2 separate regions of the Homo sapiens genome follow, and region 1 is linked to region 2. A link means that fine-mapping ties the variant in region 2 to the expression of a gene that starts in the linked region. Tissue or cell type: tibial nerve. Region 2 holds a variant in brackets; the other region holds the start of a gene. All regions are shown on one strand. Distances are from middle to middle.

Region 1 (10,822 bases), 24 kb after region 2:
TATAGCAAGAGGCAGAGGGTAAAAGGCACCTGAAGAGCTACCATAATCAATGGACTAATCAATGGACTGAGATCTGCCTTGGCTTGCAGCTCTGATCATCCAGGCTTCCTTTTCCTTCCTGAAAGTCATGGATCCAGCCCACCTCCATGACAACTTCCCTTCTGCCTGGTTTTTCTGCCCGAAAAGAATAGCTTCTCCATGCCTATCCCAGCCATCTCCACTTCTCTTCCCTTTCCACTCAGTATCCCCACCAGCTGTCTCTCCAATCCACTTTCCCACCACACCCTTGATGGATGGAACTGCATAATTGTGTGATGGCGGAAAGCTAATTTGTACTTCTGTGCTGGCAATGAAGTGTCTGGAGCTTTGCAATTGACATTGAGAAGCAGAGGGGATCCCTCACTCCATCCCTGGTTCTCCCTCAAACTCAAATCGCAAATCCTCCACTCTATCTGCAAAGGCCCAGAGACAAAGGGGCTGTAACCTAACCCAAACCAAACAGCCACTCACAGAAAGTCATGGGAAGAAAAAAATCTTTCCAGTCTTGCAAAGACAAGCACCTGGTGGTTCTCTCCCTGTCTCTCGGTAAAGGTCATTGGTTCAGTTTCCCTTTCCACCTCCTGCAGGGTCTTGTCAGCACCTGTTTTCTTGGGCACAGATTGGGAGATGGTTTGGTGTTTCTCTTCCTCCCAAATTAAGGCACACTCAGACCAAAAAGCAAAGGGAAAGTGCCTCCCGAGGTTTTGCTGCTATCCATTTCTCAGTTTCGGAGGTCTCAAGACACAGAAAACTTAGACACCTAAAGAGGATAGAGAGGAAGAAATATTTCTTTTTTATGTATTTATTTTTTTCTTTGAGACCAACTCGCTCTGTTACCCAGGCTGGAATGCAGTGGCACGATCTCAGCTCACTGCAGCCTCTGCCTCCTGGGTTCAAGCGATTCTCGTGCCTCAGTCGCCGGAGTAGCTGGGATTACAGGCGCCCACCACCACACCCGGCTAATTTTTGTATTTTAGTAGAGACGGGTTTTGCCATGTTGGCCAGGCTGGTCTCGAACTACTGACCTCAGGTGATCCACCCGCCTCGGCATCCCAAAGTGTTGGGATTACAGGTGTGAGCCACCGCGCCCAGCCAAAAAAATGTTTCTGAAAGAATATGTGTACATGCACGCGTATACATGTGGCAGGGGGTGAGAGGGAGAGACTTGTATAATCAGAGATTTAGTATGTGATACAATGGGAAAGAATAAACAGAATTAAAGGATAACAGCCACCATTTATTGGATCTGTACTATATGCCAAACATGTTGCGAAATATTTTATGCACAATGTTTCATTTAATTTTCAAAGCAACCCAGTGAGGGAGAAACGTATGCGCCCATTTTACAGTTGAAGAAACAGGCTCACTGACGCACAGCTCATGACTGGGGCCGAGCTCCAGGACTGAGATCCTGATGCCCATTTTCTGAACCACTACTGGCTACTGCTTTCCAAGGGCTAGAGATGAGAAAAAAAAGGAAATTGGTTTATGGTGTGGCAGAGGTCTTGCGATGAGACATGAAGAACTCTCTGACAATGAGGGCTGTTTGGTTGTAGTCGGAGTAATTAGGCTTGTTAGAGCTCTTCCTCTGACGGCCTTTACATTTAAGATGAATGGATGCTTCTATGCCCGGATGGTTTGAGGGAAACGCTGTCTGTTCCCAGCACGGGGCTGGCCTGTTTGAACTAGCTGACGGCTTCACTGGGGATACAGGATTGCCACACGCGAAACCGTTAGATAACAGGAGAAGATAGCGCAGGATGTGAGCCCCGAGTGGGACTGGCAGAAAGTGAGGGCTACCGACAGGCAGAGGCTACTGTGGTTCAAAGCAAGGGCTTTGTGGTCAGGCGGGCAGACTTGTGTTTGAGTCCCGGCTGGCTCTACTGCTTTTGTGACCTTGGGTATGTTGCCTAACCTCTCTAAGCTTTGGTTTCCTAGTCAGTAAAAAGAGCCTAAGAATAGAACCTACTTTGGAGGGATGCCATGAAAATTAAATAAGATGATCCATGTAAAATGCTTGGCACAGAACCTGGACATAATCAAAATACAATGGGGGAGGAGCTGCTATAATAATGACTATTGTTGGAGTCCAGAGGCCGGAGACAGTGGCACAGAACAGAGGGCTAGGTCGGTGGGGAGTCGAGAAAGTCTTCCTGGGAAACCTGAGTTTTGTCCTGGAGCTTGAAGAGGTGGTCAGGTGAAATCAATAGCAAGGCATAGAGATGTAGGTAGGCAGGGCTTATGTAATGGAGTGAGATTTCAAATGCCCTATCACTTTCAAAGAAAAATCTGGTTTGATCTGTGGTTGAAGTAGAGAAGGAAGTTGACTATGGGGAAGAGGTGGGAAAGAGATGAGGTCTTCCATCCTTGTTTCCAAACCCAAAATGTGAACAGAGACAAACCTCAGGGACCTAAACAAGAAATCTGACATCCAGGGCTTCTTTGCCCACTTCTGGGCTGTTGTGGGAGGAGAAGGGGTAAGAGCCTGGGAAATGGCTGAGGGCAGAGCTGGTGGCGGATGGGGACAGGACCTGAAACAAGGGAAGTTAGGAAATGTGGGCGAGGCCCTTAATGACTGTGTGGGCTGACTCATGTGGGAGACCTAGCTTCAAGGCCGCATGGAGATCCAGCATCCTGTCAGGCGGGAGGCCAATTTCAAGACCCTGGGCATCTCTAGTCTAAACGGTTGCCAGCTAAGAGTGGGAGTCCTTAGGGGAGCAATCCTTGTGCTAATCCAATTATTCCCTAACAGCCTGCCTTATCTCCCGGATGTGAAGATGAACTCCTTAGGAGCCAGGTTCTCCAGGAAGGATGCTGCTTGTTTCAGATGCTCTATGTTTTTGTTTTGTTTTGTTTTGTTTTGTTTTGTAGAGACGGAGTCTTCCTCTGTCACCCAGGCTGGAGTGCAGTGGCGCAATTTTGGCTCGCTGCAACTTCTGCCTCCTGGGTTCAAGCAATTCTCCTACCCCAGCCTCCCGAGTAGCTGGGATTACAGGCGCACGCCGCCACACCCAGCTAATTTCTTTTGTATTTTAGTAGAGACGGGATTTCACCTTGTTGCCCAGGTTGGTCTCGAACTCCTGAGCTCAGGCAATCCGCCCGCCTCGGCCTCCCAAAGTGCTAGGATTACAGGCATGAGCCACCGCGTCTGGCCCAGACGCTCTATGCTTAAACATCTGCCAAATACCTGCTGTCAACCACTTATGTCGAGCATCATGTGGGCCTTGTCAAAAATGCTAATCCTCAGTTCTTTTCCCTAGAATCTGATTCCATGGGTTTAGGGATTCGGGAATCTATTTTCTAACAAGCATCCAGGTGATTCTTCAGGAAAGGCAAATTTGGAAAAGGCTGACTTGGTAGTCTCTTAAATTCCCTTCAGTCCTAAATCTAGGCAGCAGAGAGCGGGTAGCGGGAAGGGCCCCTGGATGATAGCAAGAGGCCGATTCTAGCCGGACCCTGCAGTTCACATGGCCCTGTGCTGGGGAAGCCCTAGAAGGGAAGGAGGCTGCAGAGAAGGGAGTTTTCACCCATCAGTAATCAAGGTCCCAACAGAAGTGAAAATGGAAGTCAGGGAACAATTGGTTTTGAGCATCTTCGTGGGGCTTTTTCCCTTGCCTGGGACTGGCAGGACAGTGTAGGTCTGAGCAGCTTCCACGATACACACGGGGACACTTAAGCCCAAAGAATTTTTAAAACGTGCCTAAATTCCACAACTAATCAGAGGAGGCAGCAATCCAGATCTCCTGGTCTTCACCCTTCTTATTGTTGGGGTGCACCGCAGGGCACGCATGTTTCCTTGTGGCTTGTGGGAAAGCCACTGTCGTGGAGCGCCAGCGTCCCGAGTCCCTGGAAATTCTCCCAAGTGACCTGGAATCCAACATTTCCCTGGATTTTCATAGTCTATAATAGAGAGAAAGAACCGGGTCTGCGGTGGTGGGCAGGACTGAGGAAAGGCCGTGAATGCGGGAAGCACGGGAGGCAGGACTGAAAAGGAAAGAGGCACAGGGGCTCACAAAACCTGAGGGCCGCGTCCCAGTGGGTGACCTGACCCATCAAGGTCTAACACCTGGCCGTGGCAAAGCTGGGCGAGAACCCCCGATCCACCCTCCCAGTGTGGGGCAGGGAAAAGGCAGAGTGCAAAGCGAGGTCTGATTTTGCAGAAGCTTTTTAGAAATTCGCTGTCAGAGAAACTGAAAGACCAAACAAAACCCCTAAAAATCCAAGCCCGATTATTTCATCCACGTGGCACAAAAGCAAGCCAAAAAAAAAAAAGCGGGGGGGGGGGGTGGCGGTGCAGGGCGGGGGAAGAGTCACCCGTCCTGCCCCTGCTGGAAGGAAGGGATTTGCCCCGGGAGAGCAAACTTCTGACTCCGCCTGGGTCGCTGACTCCGCGCGGCCGGGCGGGAGGGAGGTCGAGGAGGCCGCTCGCACAAAGCCGCGGAGCCGCTGCCCCCTCTCCCCGCCCCCTGCCCGGCCAACGCCGAAGTGCGGAGAGCAGCCGCGGGCCCTTTAAGGGCCGCGAGGTGCGCGGTCTCTTTAAGGCGGGTCCTGGTGGTTTCTGTTTTCTGAAGGAAGTGACGGGGGGTGGGATTGAATGAAAAGTGCAAAACACAGGCTCGCAGCGCTGGAGCCCGGGGCCGCGGAGCCGGGCCGGGGCAGCGCCGTCTCCGCCTCGGGGCCGCCGGGGGCGCCCTGCTGAGCGCTACCCACGTGCGTCCGCGCCACCTCGCGGGCGACCCCGCGGCCAAGGCCCCCGGCGGAGCGGCTCCCGGGCGCCCCGAACTAGCCCCCAACTTTGGGCGAAGTTTGCCTGCGCCTCTCCCCGCCCCCACGCGGCGCGCCGGGGCCGCGGACGGCAGCGGCCCCCGGGGATGCGCCTTCCCGGGGTACCCCTGGCGCGCCCTGCGCTGCTGCTGCTGCTGCCGCTGCTCGCGCCGCTGCTGGGAACGGGTGCGCCGGCCGAGCTGCGGGTCCGCGTGCGGCTGCCGGACGGCCAGGTGACCGAGGAGAGCCTGCAGGCGGACAGCGACGCGGACAGCATCAGCCTCGAGCTGCGCAAGCCCGACGGCACCCTCGTCTCCTTCACCGCCGACTTCAAGAAGGTGAGGCGCCCTCACTCGCCGGGGTGGCACCTTCAAGCCTGAGCCCCCCGGGATCCCAGGCGCTCTCTTGCCTGCAGACGGAAAGACGGGCCCAGGAGGGAGACGCAGCTGGCCCAAGGTCACGCCGGGCTCTTCTCTACACCTCTTTGCCCACTCCCCAGGGCCCACCCCTTCATTCTCTCCAAAGAACCCCTCTGCTTCCCTTTCTCACTCCCTCCTCCAGCGCTCCCAGAGCCCCCCAGGTGCTAACCCTCCTCCAGAACTCCTACTAACGACTGGACTCCCTTCTTGGAGTCATTCCCCTGTGCTCTAGTGGGAAAGTCCTAGGCGAAGTGTTCTCGCTGTGGGCTCTCACTGTGGGTTCTCCCTGTGTGATCTAGAGCAAGCAAGCCTCTTTCCTCCTATGGGCCTGGCTTCTCACCCCTGTACAGGGCACTGAGGGGTCTGCGAGGCCTCCCAGCCCTGACATTTTGGAGTCCCTCTGTCACCTCTCCCTCTGTTTCACTTTTCTGGGGAGAGCTGGTTGCCCCTGGTCCCTCTCAAGCCGGGAGAAGCCCTGTCTCCTCTTTGGTCTGGAAGGCTGGGGCGCTTGCAGCAGGAGGATCCTGGAGAGAGACCCCAGCTGAGGCCCCCTCCCTCTGGGAGAAGTGCTGCCCTTCACTCTGCCTGGCAGAGAAGCGAGCCAACCCCCCTATTTTGGCCCAGATTAGGGTTAGGGAGTTAGAGACCAGCCCGGTGGGTGGGTGGGTGGGTGGGTGTGGGTGTGTGGGTGTGTGTCCCAGATTACGGTTTGGGAGTTAGAGACCAGCCCGCTCTTGGTGTGTGTGTGTCTGTGTTGGAGGGAATAAGAAGGGCCTTGCACCCAGGGGGCTGGGGGATTATCAGGAAATGGGCCTGGATGGTGAGTGACTAACAGTGACCCAGCAGCAGGAAAGCTGGAGGAAAAGAGGGTGGGTAAGTCTTAGGTATTCAAAAGGAGCGTTCTGTCTCCTTCCCCCAGCTAAAGAGAGGCCCTGTGAGGCTCTGTCCCTGGGGGAGTGCAGGGGTGAAGCCGATTAGATAGCTGGGGGAGCCCGGGGCCCCGGGGACCCTTGCTGAAGCTGCCTGTCTTTCCTCCCTCGTAGAGACAGGGCGCTTTAGAGGAGAGGTGGCGGAGTTTGGGAAGTCAGTTAGGGACCCAGCCAGATTGCCATAGTTAGCAGGGGTGAGGGGTTAGGCTTGACCGCTAGAGGTGGGTGGGGTTGGGGGGTGAGGCTTGACCGCTGATTGCCCCAGGGCCACGGAGTTGGCACTGACATTGGACATAAGCAGGCAGATGGGGGGTGGGGTAGTGAGCGTTCACAAATGGGAAGACTTTGTAGCCCATCCTTACTCCGCAGGCCTAAGCTAGGCACCCTGCCTCCCCACCTAAACCCTAGGAGAATTTTATCAAGTGTGTTCTGTTCCTGAAAAATCTATGTTAGTGGCTGGATCCATCAGGAATCGGGGATCTAATCTTCTGTCCAAGCCCTTTGTCCTTGAAAGTTAGCCTTAGGCCAGGCTGTGAGGCTCCCAACCCCCTGCCCACTGGATGTCATCTTGTGGCTGCACTAGAATCCTGCAGAGAGACTTCCCTGGCTGTGGCCAGGACAGTGAAAGGCAATGGGTAGGGCTGAGCTTTTATAGCCTTTAGCTACATCTGGAAGGTTTTTATTGCTGTGATCTGAAGGGAGAGGCTAAGAAGTACCCAGGTAGCTGTGATGTGCTGGCAGTAGTGGCTGATGGCGGGGGTGGGGTGCTGGGGATTGGAGTGAGGGTATGCTGGTCATCTGACTGCCCAGTTAGAAAATGCATCTGGAGATTGTGAGCACCTCATTTGAATCTCTACAGTGGTTCAGACCTCCACCCAGGTTTCTAAAGTCTGATTTTCAGGTTAGCCTCTGACCCAGAAGCTACCATTTCATACCCACCTCTGGCATCTCCAATTTCATCAGCAAGGGAGGGAATTGGGAGTGGAAGACACCGAAAGGAAACCAGCTTTCCCAAGTCCCTTTAACTCCAGGTTTCTCCATTGGCCTAGGACGGGGTGGAGTTGGAGAGTGCAGTGTGGGGGAGAATAGCCTTACCCTCACCCAGGCCACTCACTCACTGCCTGCACTGGCCACAGCAGCTTCTATGTCCAGATCCTTCTAGGGTGGGTCACCTCTCAGTTCTCAAGGCCCCATGCCTCATAGTGTTTGTCAGATTTCCATAAGAAAGTTTGGTCTAGAAGGAATGATTTTTCCTATAAGAAAAAGACTTCGGCTCGGTGTGGTGGCTCACATCTGTAATCCCAGGATTTGGGGAGGCTGAGGCAGGCTTATCGCTTGAAACCAGGAATATGAAATCTTCAGGCCAAACGAGACCCCTGTCTCTACAAAAAATTTAAAAATTAGCGGAGCACGCTGGTGTGTGCCTTGTAGTCCCAGCTATTCAAGGAGGCTGAGGCAGGAAAACCACTTGAGCCCAGGAGCTGAGGCTGCACTGAGCTGCAATTGTACTACTGCACTCCAGCCTGGGAAGTCACGCTTTTTGTGTTTCTTGTACCAAACTCATTTGCAGTGATTTGGGAAAAGTCCTCATCTACTTGGGAAGAGCCTTGTTTGCCATTTGATCACGTTGGGGAGAACAGTCCAGACTGAATGAGACAGACTTGGTTTACCACTTATTAGCAGGTTCACCCTGGGCAAGCTACTTGATCTCTCCAGACCTTCATTTCTTCATCTATAAAATGGGGATAATAATAGCACATATCCCACAGTTAGTAGTGCCTATGACATCCTTACTCTGTATTAGATACTGTGTTAAGGGCTCAAGACATAGGAGCTGTTAGCTTTGCAATTGTGGCTCACACAGCATTTCAGCAAGGATCCTCTCTGCTAAACTTGGACTCAAAGACATTGAACAACGGACCCAAGGTCATGCAGAAAAGTCAGTACTGAGCCTGGAGGATCCTTGAGCTCTTCATCTTAACCTTCTCCTTGAAGTGCCAAAATTGCTGGCCAGCCCCTCAGAGCAGGAGCAGCCATCCTTGTCCTGACAGTCCACCCAGGGCAGCAGTGAGCCTCCCTGTGTGGGATGGGACCAAGGCTTCTGTCTGATTCCCAACCCTATCCAGCCCCCTCTCTCCAGCCCTTCCCACCTGTTTGCCTCTACCCGCGTCAGAGTTCTGACAGTCTAACTCTCTCCCACACTACTGCTCTGGACCTTGACGCAGCAAAGCAGTCACAGTCGTCAACCCACTGGAGGACACATAGCCTGGAGCCCAGGTGAGGCTTGCAGACTCAGTAGCTTGGAGCTATCAGATGGCCATCCTGCATTACTGCAAGCCCTGCCCAGAGGCTGAGTGAAGGCCATCAGGCTGACCGAGCCACAGCTCTGAAAGAATGCCGCAGCTCAGTGGCTCCCAGCTTTGCCGCACCTCACAATCACCTGGGGAGCTTTGAAAATTCCCACTGCCTGGGCTGCACACCCTACCAGTGAAATCAGAATATCTCAGGGTGGGAGTCAGGCAGCAGTCGTTTTGGTTTTGTTTTTTCTTTTAAAGAACCCAGGTGATGTAATCCCAGCACTTTGGGAGGCTGAGGCAGGCGGATCACAAGGTCAGCAGTTCGAGACCAGCCTGGCCAATATGGCGAAACCCCGTCTCTACTAAAAAATAAAAAATAAAAAAAAATTAGCTGGGCATGGTGGCATGCACCTGTAGTCCCAGCCACTCAGGAGGCTGAGGCAGGAGAATCGCTTGAATCCAGGAAGCGGAGGTTGCAGTGAGCCTGGATCGCGCCACTGCACTCCAGTCTGGGTGACAAAAGAACCCAGGTGATTCCAGTGTGCAGCAAAGTTTGGGAACCACTGGCGCAGTTGCTCTAGGGGAGGGGAGGGGACCTGGAGAAGGAGCCAGCTCAGGTTAAATGAGGGTAGGGCCCAAACTCAGTCACATATTTGAAACCTGTCATCTTACCCACACTAATCCTAATGTGTTTTGAGCAGCACATATACTTCGGGCCTAATGCTGTGTGCCCTCAGTACACAAACTAATTCACAGCGCGCCCTTGGTGGGCAACACTCTCCTTTATACTCCACATCCTATGGGTGTAATTAGCCCTGGATGTACATAATCACTGGCATATCTAATCATAGGTGTGTCACCATCCCCTCTCCCTAAACTGGCTATTTGACAGCCCTTCTGGTCTACCTCCTGGAAGCTGGTATTCTTGCCAGTTTCTCTTTCACCTCTGTCCCCTAGTCCGAGTGGCCAAAAGCTGGGAAGAGGATGAGTCACGCTCCAGGCTGCCTGCCTTGGGGCTGACCGGATGGGGAGGGTGATACTGACAGATATGAAGAAGGTCATGTGTGATGGCATCACGGTGGTGGGCGGTGGGGGTCCCTTTCCCCTCCCAGCATCAGGGAGGATAGGGAGACACAGACTCCAAAAGTGTGGAAGGAGGGGATCCTGAAGGCCCACAGCTGGAGCCCTGGAGGGAATAAGCAAGATAAGGGGAACTGTACAGCTGTGTGGGTCAGCTCAGGGCCGCTTCGAAGGGACAAGGACCCATGGAGGATGGAAGCTTGAGCCCTGTCCTGGGCACTGATGAGTGAGTGGGAGCCAGAGGAAGGGATAGTCCAAAGAATGCTAGGGCCCCTGTGCCGGGGGGCCTGGTCTGTGGGTGGGGGAGCAACATGGGAAGCCTTGAGGTGCAGTCAGTAAAGATGTGGAATGTGCAATGTCCACGTTGCCACCTAAGAACGTGTATCCCAAGGAGATATCACAGCACATAGATGTGGGACCGAGAAGCTTTCAGGGCCCAGTCTGCCCCTACCCTGTCTGTGTTAGCACCCTTAAGATTTGGCGTGGAAGCATCTGATGGATGGAAAGTCTCCTTGGGGAGGAAAAGGCAGTGGAGGTGCTTTCGGGAGAGGCCCAGACTTTTCTGGAGCTCAGAGCATTTCCTCACAGGTATTTACAAGAAGTCGCCAGATGGAATGACCAGGCTCACTGACATGGGGCTCCTGGGTCTAATATCTGTCCCTCCTCTGCGTGTGAGGAATTCCTCCTCAGATCAGGATGGCCAGCCCTGCCTGAGGGTTCAGACCCCCTCCCGGGAGCTTGGCCAGCATCTCCCACCCCTGAATGCTATGTCCAGGTGGAGTCCTAGCAAAAGATCCCGGTAGGCCATGAAGACTGCCACCTGGGATAATGGAGGATCCTGCTGGGAAGCTGGTGGGGAGAGTGAGTTAGTTCCCTCCCAGGCTTCCCAAGGCACAGAGAGGTGGTGGAGATAAACTTAGGACAGACTCCTGTTCCGCTGGCGGAGGGCCCAGCCTTGAAGTGAGGATTGCATAGGGTCTGGAGATCACCCATTGAGCAGTCCCTCATGTCACACATGCTCTTATCTGATCGCCTGGAGCTCTCAAGTGAGGCTGACAAGATGAAGCAGCTGATGATCCCAGATTAGGACCCAGGGTTCCTTCCAGTATATCCTGACTGCCTGTCTGCCATGGTACCATGAGTGGGCTCCTTCCAGTAGGCTAAAGAACCCTGGGGAGGGAGGTGGAGGGGAGAAGGAGGCTGGAAAAAACCTTGGTGCAGAGGAACAAATCCACAGAGACCCTCGTTTGTACAGACTTGGGCTGGACCACTTCCCCCACGCTCTTACCTCCAG
Region 2 (10,822 bases):
TAACTCAAAGCACAGAAGACAACTCACTTGAACTTTGGAACCAAGACCCTTCCTCTTTCCTGTTTTGAGCCATCTCCCCCCAATTCAAGGCCTACCCTGTCATTCCTGACCTAGTGGAGGTCAAACTAAACCAGCCTGACCTAGTGGAGCTCAAATCAAGCTCTAAGCAGTTTCTTCCACTGGGCGCTTTCTCATCCTTGGAAACTCGCCAAGTGGAGATAATAATGGCATTAGTGGGTTGCGTGAACATGTATGAAGTCTTAGGACAGCACCTAGGTAGGGGGCAGGTGCCTCAGCCATTCTTGTTCCTTTCCTCTTGGTACTTTCAAATCCACGTGTATTCGAAAGCAATGGGAAGTGTTTGTGTAAACCGTGAAGAAGTCTCCAAAAGCATGGGTGGTTAAAAACCAGCACCCTAGCGTAAGGGAGACTGTGCAGTGATGGTAGTGGAGGGCTTTACCACAGAGGAGGTGCAGGCCTTTCTGTTGTTTGAAGTGGCTTGGGTGGAGTCTGGCCCGGAGGCAGGGGGCTCCCTGCAAGGACCTCTCAGGTTCCCTTTTAGTTGGGCCCATCTGAAGGTTGCAGAGAAGACACAGAGGGGTGGAGTATAAGCGACCCGTGGGCTTGTTTTTGCTAGTTTTCTGGGTGCAGGGCTTGCTCCTCCTGGCACTGGTCCTTCCTGGGGCCCTCGGCTCCAGCTTGTTAGTTTTAACTGGAACAATTTCCTTTGAACTCAGTTTGAATGAGCATCACCATGGCGATGGATCAGGGTTTTCACAAGTCGACCTGGTCTTCACCCCTTAAGCAATTAGTTCGAAGGAGAAAAGGAGAAAGAGGAGGAGGGAAGAGGGGAGGTGGGGGAGAAAATGGAAAGGAAGGGAAGGGGAGAGGAGGAAGAGGAGGAAAACTGGAGAAAGAGAAGTAATGAGGAAGGAGAAGAGGACGACACAGGAAAGATGAGGAGGAGGAGGAGGAGGAAGGTAAGGAGGCTGGGGAGGATGTGGCAGGAGGAGGGAGAAGGTAGGAAGTAGAGGAGAACCATTCTGCCAGGCTAAGCCCAGGGGCCTAGAGTACTCCAGAGGCCCTTGACCTTCCCAGCCTTTCCCACAGCCCCACCTACTGGGAGAAGCCAGAGAAGCAAAGGAACCAGATCTTTGACCTGCAGCCTGAGAGGAAGGACACTGTTCCAACTTTCTGCAGGGTCACCCAGGAGCCTGCTCATGAGCAGTCAGCACCCAGGCGACAAGCCCACCTTCATTCAGCCTCTTTCTCCTGCAAGACCAGGCTAGGAGGACACAAGAGCAGGGGCTTCGAGTCTGAGAACTGAGGAGAGGTGGCGGGTCCCCTAGGTACTTGCCCTAGAACCTTGGGCAAGCCAGCAGCCTCTGTCAAATGGCAAGGATGGCTCCTCTTCCTTGGGTTCAGGGAAGGAGTGTCAAGTGAGAAGGCTGGTTGCTCACAGGGGTTCTGTGCACTCCGAGAGCCCTGGCACAGACTCCACATGGTCTCCAGGGGCTCACTGCTTGCCTGCTTGTCAGCTCTCTCACTTGGCTGGGAGCTTCAGGGAGGCAGTGACTAGGTCTTCATCATCGTTGAATTTCTAGACACTAGCACAATGCCTGGCATGTTACATAGGCAATAAGTATTTTTCTGATGAATTAATGATTGATGAATTATTGTTATTTTTCCCAAAAATGGGTGGCAAGACTGGGGAAAGGAGACTAGCAAGCCTGAACCCACTAGAATTTGATAGAGATGAGATCTCCCTTTCTTCAGGACTCAGTATGTCCCCATGTCCTCCAAGAGGCCCTCCTGGATTTGCCACCCCGCGCCCCACCTCCCCAGACCCTTCACTCTAGAGCCCCACTGTGTTCCATGGCCCCTGCCATCATCCCCATCATCATGCAGTATAATCATTGATTCGCTCATCCATTTCCCCAGCTAGGTCAGCTCCATGAGAGAGGGACTATATCTGGTTCCCCAGGTCCTTGCACACTCCAGGCACGGAGCTGATGCTCTAACCATGTTTGTAAATACACGGACCTGAGTATTCCAGCCAGGGCCAGGTGTCAGGCTTTCTGAGGCCAGTAAAGGCAGTGCCTGGGGGAAACAAGCCTGTGAATGGAGGGCTCACCACACAGCATGCCAAGTGGAAAACAGGCCGGGAGAGGATGGGGGCTCCGGAGAGCTATCACTGATATCTACTCTACAAATGACTGAGGAGGAGAGGTGTTTCCTAGGCCGCCAGCCAGAACTCTGGCTATGAGATATGCCGAAAAGATTTAGGTTAGAAATCAGAATGACAGCCGGGCATGGTGGCTCATGCCTATAATCTCAGCACTTTGGGAGGCTGAGGCAGAAGGATCACCTGAGGTCAGGATTTTGAGACCAGCCTGGCCAACATGGTGAAACCCTGTCTCTATTAAAAATACAAAAATTAGCTGGGCATGGTGGCAGGCACCTGTGTCGTCACTATCTCCATCTGTCTTCAGAACCGTCCTGCTTCTCCCTCTCTGTCCCCACTTCTTACCCTTTGGCTCCTGTCTGTTTCTCCTTTCGCTCTTGTAACCTCCCTTCCCAGCCCTCACCACTGCTCCAGCCTCTTTTCCCAAGTCCTGCCTTGGCCTCTCTGCCTCTCCCTCCCTCCCCTTTCCTCCTCTGCTGCTCATTATAAAAAATAAATATTTCTAAATACGCCAAAAATGCACTCATCCCCCAAGGACCCCTGTCTAGCACAAAGGGCTGGTTCTTTCTGGCTGCTCCCTGTGGCCTCCTTCTTGCCCACTGCCTTTGAATCGTGGCCTCATTCACATGACTGGAAGGGCTAACAGGGCATTTTCCCACGTGTCCGGGTGGGGAGGAGGACAGGGTCGGGGTGGTAAGTTGGATGAAGGAGGGTGGAGACAGGCAGCTGAGAATCTTCCCAAAATTTGGCTCATCCTCAGGGGAAACAAACTGCTTACTTGATATCATGACTAACTCCTTGGAACCTACAGGATCCATTAGCGATGCGGGAAAGATTCGGGTTAGAAATCAGAATGACCATGCAAACCATGAGGACAGCCACCATGTGGAATGTTTGGTCCCCATGGCACAAAGATTTGGGCTTCTTCCTGGGATGAGTTGGGATCCCTTTGGCATGGAGGCAGAGGGGGGGCTCCGTGATTCCTGGGAGACCCTCTGGATGTGAGCACCTCTGAGATTCTGGAGGGAGCCCAGGGCTCCCTGTGCTCTGTCCTCCCACCCCACACCCCACCCTATGCTCTCTGCTCTCTGGTCAAGTCCCTGGTCCGCGGGAGCACTGACCTAGAGTGTGGAAGCTCCTCCCCTTGAAAGCTGGGCTGACCTTGCTTCAGCTGAGTCCAGGAGAAAACACACATCTGACACACCCCAGGGCTGGGGGAAGGGAGGCAGGAGCAGAGGAGGGGAGCATCCAAGGTCCTGAAGTTCCAGAAGGAGTCCAGCCTTCTCACAGAGCCTGAAGCATAGGCATGGGCAGAGCGGGTGCCGGACCTCCAAATGGCTCTCCCTCTGCACTGTGGAATCACTCCCGCAGGAGGCAGGTGGTGGGAGAAGGCCTTGGCCTCAGCATTCCCCTGCCCTTGTGTCCTCCTGTTCTGAATTTCCTAATCTCTTTCCTGCATGTCCCCTCAACAACCTCCCCTCCCCTCCCTTCCCCACCCCACACCACAGCAGCTGGGCTGCTGGAAGTCGGGAGTGTTTATGAGTTAATCAAAAACTCCTGTACTTTGCTCTTGAATTGAGGCCATCATTCCTTTGTCCCAGGGCAATGGGGTCAGTTTGATCTCTCCTGGCTTAAATAGTGTGTAGCAAAGTAAAAGGGAAAAGTGGGGGAAGGAGAAGGGAATTTAAATTTATCAAGGGCCCCCTGCTAAACATCACGCCCTGGGCTGGGTGCTCTGCAGAGACCAAGCTCACAGCCGTGCTAGTAGCTGGGTGTTTCCATGTTACATTGAGGAAACCAAGTTGCAAAGACTTAAAGAAACCTGCCTCAGATCTCATAAATATGAAGGAAAGTGCTTTGAGGCTTCCAGTAGAGTTTGGAGGGTGTTCCTAACCCAAGATTGGGTTAAAAAATTCCATGATTGTCCACAGAATATGGACAGAAAGCTGAGAATAGCTGTGATGTTCCAGCTTGGAAAGAAGTGGGGGGTGGGAAGGGCTGAGAGGAGGCAGGGGCTGCATGCAGACTGGGCTCCTATCCAGAGGAAGAGCCCCAAGGGGGATTGGGAAGGCTTGTGAGGTTGGAAATTATGGATGGAGGGGGCTAAAGAGGAGGCCTAGAACTCCCCACTCCAAGAGCCCTGGAGAATCCCGGTCTGGCCTGAGAAGATCAGGAGTTTGGGATAAATTGCTAGAGAGGCCTTGTCCTCATGTGGGCCAAGTAAGCCCTTAAAATGGGTGCCCAGCAAAGCAAGGGGGTCTGAGGTGGCCCAGCTCTGTCCCTGCTCCCCACAGACACCTGCTACCCTGGGCATCCTACAGCTGCACTCAATCTGCCCCTCCTTCCTTCCTAGGCCTTAGGAAATATCTGTTCATTTTGTTTCTTTCCACTTTCTCTCTCCCCTTCTTCCTGTCTCCCTTCATCTGCCTGCTCCTCCCCAATCTGTCCTGAAGAGTACATTTCTTTCCCCATCAGGGAGCCTTGTGGGAATCTGGGGGGCCTGGGGCTGAGGAAGAAGAGACTTCAGATCCAAGAGCAGCCCTGAA[G/A]GATTGAGGGAGGCAGAAGGGGTGTCAGCCACTGGGCAGAGGAGTTCCTGGCAGCAGGGAGGGCCATGAGATAATTAGCCCTAGAGCTTTCTAGGCCTCTGGAAAGATGTGGGGTACAGGAACAGAAGGGAAGGAAGAGGCAGGTCAGGACTGGGGGAACTCAGGTTCCCTGGCCTGCCTGACAGAGACAGCACATGGTAGAGTTGAGAGGGGAGCCAGGGTCAGGGACAGGGCAGGCAATGGGAAAGAACAGGGACATTCCCAGGCTCAGGAGTCCCCAGGTCTCCCAGGGGAGGGTAGTCCTCGCCTGAGGTTAGGTGGCGGGCCCCGACTGGCTGGGAGTGGGTTTCTGTACGTGGCTGGAGGTGAATCACACCTTCTGTGTGGGTTGCATGTTTATATGTGGGTGTGCCGAGTCAGCATGCGTTGTCCTGCGTGTCTGCTGGTGTATGTAGGTGTTACTGGTGGGTGACAGGTCAAGGGTGTGCCCTGGTGAAGCGGGAGGGTGCCTGTGTGTGTCTGTGGGCCTCTAGACCTGAGGAACCATGCTTGAGTTTGTTCTCAGAATGTGCTGGCATATCTGTGTGCCACGTGTCCCTTTCTCTGTCTCTGTGTGTCCTACTGAAATCGGCTGTGTGCAGGAGTGTGTCTGCGTATGTGGGTGTGTTTGTGCAGGGGCCAGGGAAGGGTTATTCATAGAAGCAAGAACTGACTCTGGTGGGACACTCGTGCAGAGATGGGGAGGCACGTTGGGTGGGTAGGTGGGGGGCAGGCACTGTGTACACCAACGTGCTCCGAATTCCAGCAAACTCCAGTGCCTGAGTTTCCAGCTGTCCCAGCTCAACTGTGCACAGATGTGTGCCGCTTTGCTACAGCCATAAACAGACCTCCCAGGATTTTTCCAGAGGAAACGCAGAAATATTTTGGTGTCTGCTCTTGGTAGTAGGAAAGAGAGTGGGGATGAGGCTTGAGGCTAGGGCTTCGAAACAGAGGGACCACAGTCAGAGGGGAGCTGAAGAGGCAACAGCATCCCCCACAGGCCAGCAGGGTGGGGGAAGAGCTGTGATGGCTTCCAGTTGTGGGGTCCTCTCTAAGGCCCCAGCTAGCAGCTGGAAAGTGAAGTCCCAGTTGCCAGTGTAGGGGCAAAGAAGGAAAGCTTCCCCCTTCACCCTCTGAAGGTTTGCAGAAAGTGAGCTGACAAAAAGCAGATCAATAGAAAAAAGAGGTAAACGGATGTTATTTAACATGCATAGCACAGGGGTATGGCGGGAGAATGATTACCCGATAACCCAGAGAGGTCCAGGTGCTTGTAAACCCTTCTTTATAGTGGAAAGAGACAAGGTGTTACAGGCATAAATACTTTTATGGTGGGGGATGAATGGAGCCAGGAGGCAGGCATTATCTTGTGAATGATTCTTTTTGGAAACTGAATGGGACCAGAGAACAAACAATAGTTTGAGACACAGTTTGGGCTCTAGATGTGGTGTTTCGTGATCAGTCTCTTCCTCTGTGGTAGGAGTTTTCATCTCCTCTGATTAATGAAATTTCAGGAGAGGGATCGAAGGCAATTCTGCTCCTGCTTGGGAGTCCAGTTTCCAGTTCGATATGGGAGCTTCAGAAGACAGCCTCATCCTGTGCTTTGGGAGAGACAGGGGCTTTTGTGGGAGGTAGGTCAGAGAGACCTGGAGGCTGCTTCTTCAATTCAGCATGTCAAAGTGCCATCTTTGTGGGTATCATTTTCTGAGCCCTAATACCACAGATGCTGGCCCCCCAGAGCCCAGGCCACTGCTGCTCCACCCTTCCCTGTCCCCCAACCCCACGGGCTGTACCACAGATACACACACACCCCCACCACCACCAGCCCACCACTCAACATCCAAACACACAAAGACACTACACAAACCAGCCACCCTGCACGCACCTCACCACCACATTCACATACGCACTCACTTGTTCTCTCACACATCCTATGCCCACAGTTCTAGGACCACAGTCACAGACACCTCACAAACACCTCACTGCACACATGCTCTGAGCCATACACCCTGGCACAATGCACACCGACCCCACCTCACCCCACGCCCCTACACACAGGTCCAGACTTCCCCAAGCCAAGGAAGGGGCATGACACTCTTCTTAGGCCTCTCATCAGAGCAAAGTCTGTAAAGGTTTAGAAGAGTGTGAGGTGTTCCTGTCCAACAGGATTACCTTGGTGAGTTGAACCCACCCACCACCTCCTGCCCTGGGCATAAATTCTCCCATTCAACTATACCCCTTCCTCTGTCCCTCTCCAGGGAGAAAAGTGGCCTCTTCTCAGCAGGTGACCCTGGGGATGGGCCCCGGCTGCTCTTTGCCCTCTGAGGTAGGAGATATCCTTGCACATTTTCTCAGCAAACTCTTATTAACCAGCTACTCTGTGCCAGGGAAGTGCCGGGGAAGTGGGAGGCAGGGGCTGAAAGAGGTGCTTTCTCCACCCTTAAGGAACTTACAGCCCAGCAGCAAGGATGACCATGGACTGTGCTGCAAGCCACTCCACACCCTGCAAGGGAGCGGAATAAAGTGCTCTGGAGTCCAGTGGTGGGAGAGAACACTGCCAAGCTGAGAAGGCAGGCAGGCTTCCTGGAAGAGGTGACATGTGGGCAGGCTTTGACCAATGGGCAGCATTTACCTGTGAAGGCCATGGGGGTAGGGAGAATTCAGCCTCACTCCTACCCACAAAGCTCTCTAGCACCAGGAACCAGTTTCATGAAAGACAATGTCTCCACGGATGGGAGGGCAGGAAGTGGATGGTTTGAAGATGAAACTGTACCACCTCAGATCATCAGGAATTAGATTCTCATAAGGAGTGTGCAATTCGCAATAGGGTTCACATCCTTTGAGAATCTAACGTTGAGGAGCATGGGCGGTGGGGGAACCCCTGCTGTAGCACATCATCTTGTTTTATTGTATTCATAGCACTTATCTGAATTTATCTTGTTTATTTGAATATCTGTTTTCTTTTGTCTCCACCTCTACAACGTAAGCTAAAGCCTCCTGTGTCTTGTCCACCACACTTAGTGACTGTGTCCCCAGCACTTAAAACAGTGTCTGGTGCTCTTTAAAGGGAGGAAGAAAGGGAGACAGGGAGGGAAGGAGGAAGAGAGAGAGAGAGAGAGAGAGAAGGGAGGCAGGGGAAAAGCTCACCTGCCAAGGCACAGGACCTGAAGGCCAGTCTGGCAGGAAGAAGATGATGGCAGGCCTTGAATACAGGTTGAGGAAGGTGGACTCAACATTTGCCAGTGGGGAGCCATGAGGTTTATGAGCAGGGCAGTGATGCATACAGGCCAGTGGTCCCTGGGCCAGCCATTTATGCTGCAGAATCTCCTTGACTATGAAACATATGGGTCTCTGATTTAGCCAATTGACAGGTAAACTCTACCTAGTCACAGGATTCAACCATGACCTTTGGCAGTATAGGTACATACATAAACCTATTATACAGCATTTTAGCTTACATTGTAGGGGTGGGGCCGGCCAAACACAGATGTTCAGATAAACAAAATAAATTCACATATGCCTTCTCTCCTTAGCTTCACCCTCAGACCATCCCACAGAAATAGGTCCTAGATGGAAACAGCTTATGGTACAAAAGTCATGTCTTTGAGAAAACACATTTGCATGGAACAGCCATACCATTACCTTTCTCTAAAGCACACACGGAGGACAGTACGGCATGCAGAATGGAGAGGGAAGTGGCTAGATCGCTCATACCTTCCTAGGAGCCCCCTTCTACCCTTTCGAAGTGGACCAAGCCAGTGCCTAGTGTCTCACCCTTGCTAAAGAATAGCTCACTTGATTTTAGGGCCAAAGAAGAGGGTGGTAAGGCCAGGCAGGGGCTGAACGAGAACCCTCTCGTGAGCTACCTGCCCACTTTCCAAAACTGAGCAGGACAAATGCAACGGGGAGGTTTCATTTTAAATGTTCTCCAGTTGGAGAAGGGCTTTAATCTCAACAACGAAGACTCGCCAGCCCTTCAGCCCCTGGGCCTAGGGCTGAAAGCTCTGGGCCTTCACGGAGAGGTCCACTGTCTGCAGAGTCCTGGCCATAGCTGGGAAGGAGGGATCCTGGGCTCTGGTCTTGACTACAGGACATCTGGTATCTCTGTTGGAGCCAAGTCGAATCAGATGCTCAGGCTCCTAGTGGGAAGGGGCAGAGCAGCAGAGAGATCTGACCTGGAAAGAGCATGTGGTGGGTGCAGGCACAGGGCTCTGGATGCAGGACTGCAGCCCTAACTCTACCGCAGGACAGCTCTGCTACCTTAGGCAGCTCCGTTACGCTTTCTGCACCACAATTTCCTCATCTGCAAAATGGAGAAATCATCACTCTGCCTACTTCAGAAGAGCACTGTGGGGATCAAATGAGCTGAAAGGGAGATGAAAGGAGTTTGCGCTGCACACAGGGAGATGATGAGGCCATGCCCTCCTCACTGTGGCACAGAACACGGTAGCAGGAGGGACTAGAAAGGCCCTGTACTCAGAATTAATTAGGAGGCTCTTGTTTCTTGATAACTGCCCAGGGCCTGAATCCCAGCCCCACTTCTCACCTGTAGGTGACCATGAACCAGACATCTCAGCCCTCTGGGAGGCTTGTCTTTGAAGCGGGAGGAGGGGAGGAGCTGGCTCCAGTGATTGCTAAGGTCCTGTCGAGCTCTGCATTTGTTCCCTGGAGCCTCCCTAATTTCCAGACTCTAAAGTTCTGAATTCTCCCTGCTGTCCCATCTTACTCTCAACCAAGGGGAGACCAGGGAGGAGGAAACTGGGCTCCCCCTGAACACACTGGCTGTCTGGCAGCTGAGAATGGCCTCAAGCAGGGAGAGAGGATGGGGCTTCCCAAGTGCTAGGGAGAGCAAAGGACCCAACTTGTGCTTACAACTGCTCCCTCTATGAACAGGCAAGAGATGGAGGCTGGGGGGCGGGGCCCAACCAGGGGGGCTGATTTGAACCCTGACTCCTCCTACTGCGTGTTTATTATTCTATCTTCATTTTCATTCATTTATGTGCTTGTGCAGCAAACATTTGTAGGGCCACTATTCTGTGCCAGGCACTGTCCTGGGTGTCGGGAATACAGACATGAGGACGTTCACAGCCTCGTGGGAGACGACAAGAGATGTAAACAGATGGTTCGCACATAGAGTGAGAAGCAGGGGGACAGGAGCTCTCCTGAGTACTGCATCCTGACTACTGGGTGCCACAGAGCACAAAGGAGGGTCCGCACCCAGCCAAGGGGGCCTCTCTCTCCTTAAACATCACAGTCAGCTTGCTGAGATGATGGGAAATACAGGAATCGCTTGGTGCCCAACAGCTTAAGGGGTGGTAAAGAAAAAACATCCAAGAGAAAGGTTCCTGGGTGGGATAATTAATGTTTTGACGAGGAGGAAAATATTAGTGTGTGTTGCTCAGCATGCAAACACCTCAACTAACAAAACGGCTCGGAGAAAACAAGTGGAACGGTGGGGTTTTTCTCACAAAGATTTTTTTTTTTTTTTTGAAAAAAAAGAAGAGAAGAGAAAAAGATGGCAGTCACAAATAACCTCCCGCAGCTGAAAGACATTCCCCACCGGGTGAGGAAAGCAGGGCCCAGCTCAGTAGAGAATCTTGCTGCTGCTCCTTCCTGCAGATGGCCGACCTGGCACTTAGACCCAGAGCCCCAGCTCCTGACCCACGCTGCCATTTCAAGGCACTCCTCCCAGTTGCTGAGGCAAGGGGGAGTTCTGCACACACCAGTTGAGCATTTTAAGGAAAAAGAGATGGCCGGGCACGGTGGCTCATGCCTGTAATCCCAGCACTTTGGGAGGCCGAGACGAGAGGATCACGAGGTCAGGAGATCGAGACCATCCTGGCTAACACGGTGTAAACCTCGTCTCTACTAAAAATGCAAAAAAATTAGCCGGACGTGGTGGCGGGCGCCTATAGTCCCAGCTACTCCGGAGGCTGAGGCAGGAGAATGGTGTGAACCCGGGAGGTGGAGCTTGCAGTTAGCCGAGATCGCGCCACTGCATTCCAGCCTGGGCGACAGAGCAAGACTCTGTCTCAGAAAAAAAGAAAAAAAAGGA

The links. PIP is the estimated chance that this variant, and not a neighbour inherited with it, causes the effect.
Region 1: OAF starts here. The variant in region 2 is fine-mapped to the expression of OAF in tibial nerve (GTEx, PIP above 0.99).

The regions. Positions count from the first base shown.
Region 1 is chr11:120,206,370-120,217,191 of GRCh38, forward strand. It overlaps OAF (out at first homolog), which reads left to right and starts at 4,663. Exons shown (of 4, transcript NM_178507.4): 1 at 4,663-5,141. The coding sequence starts at 4,911. RefSeq lists an enhancer at 3,416-3,957 and silencers at 4,291-4,550, 4,731-4,780, 4,871-4,980.
Region 2 is chr11:120,181,904-120,192,725 of GRCh38, forward strand. LOC124902773 (a long non-coding RNA gene) reads right to left here and starts at 3,695. Exons shown (of 2, transcript XR_007062923.1): 1 at 3,347-3,695. It overlaps LOC105369530 (a long non-coding RNA gene), which reads left to right and starts at 4,290. Exons shown (of 3, transcript XR_948101.2): 1 at 4,290-6,943; 2 at 7,026-7,093; 3 at 7,213-9,368. The variant G/A (reference allele first, on the strand shown) is at 4,732.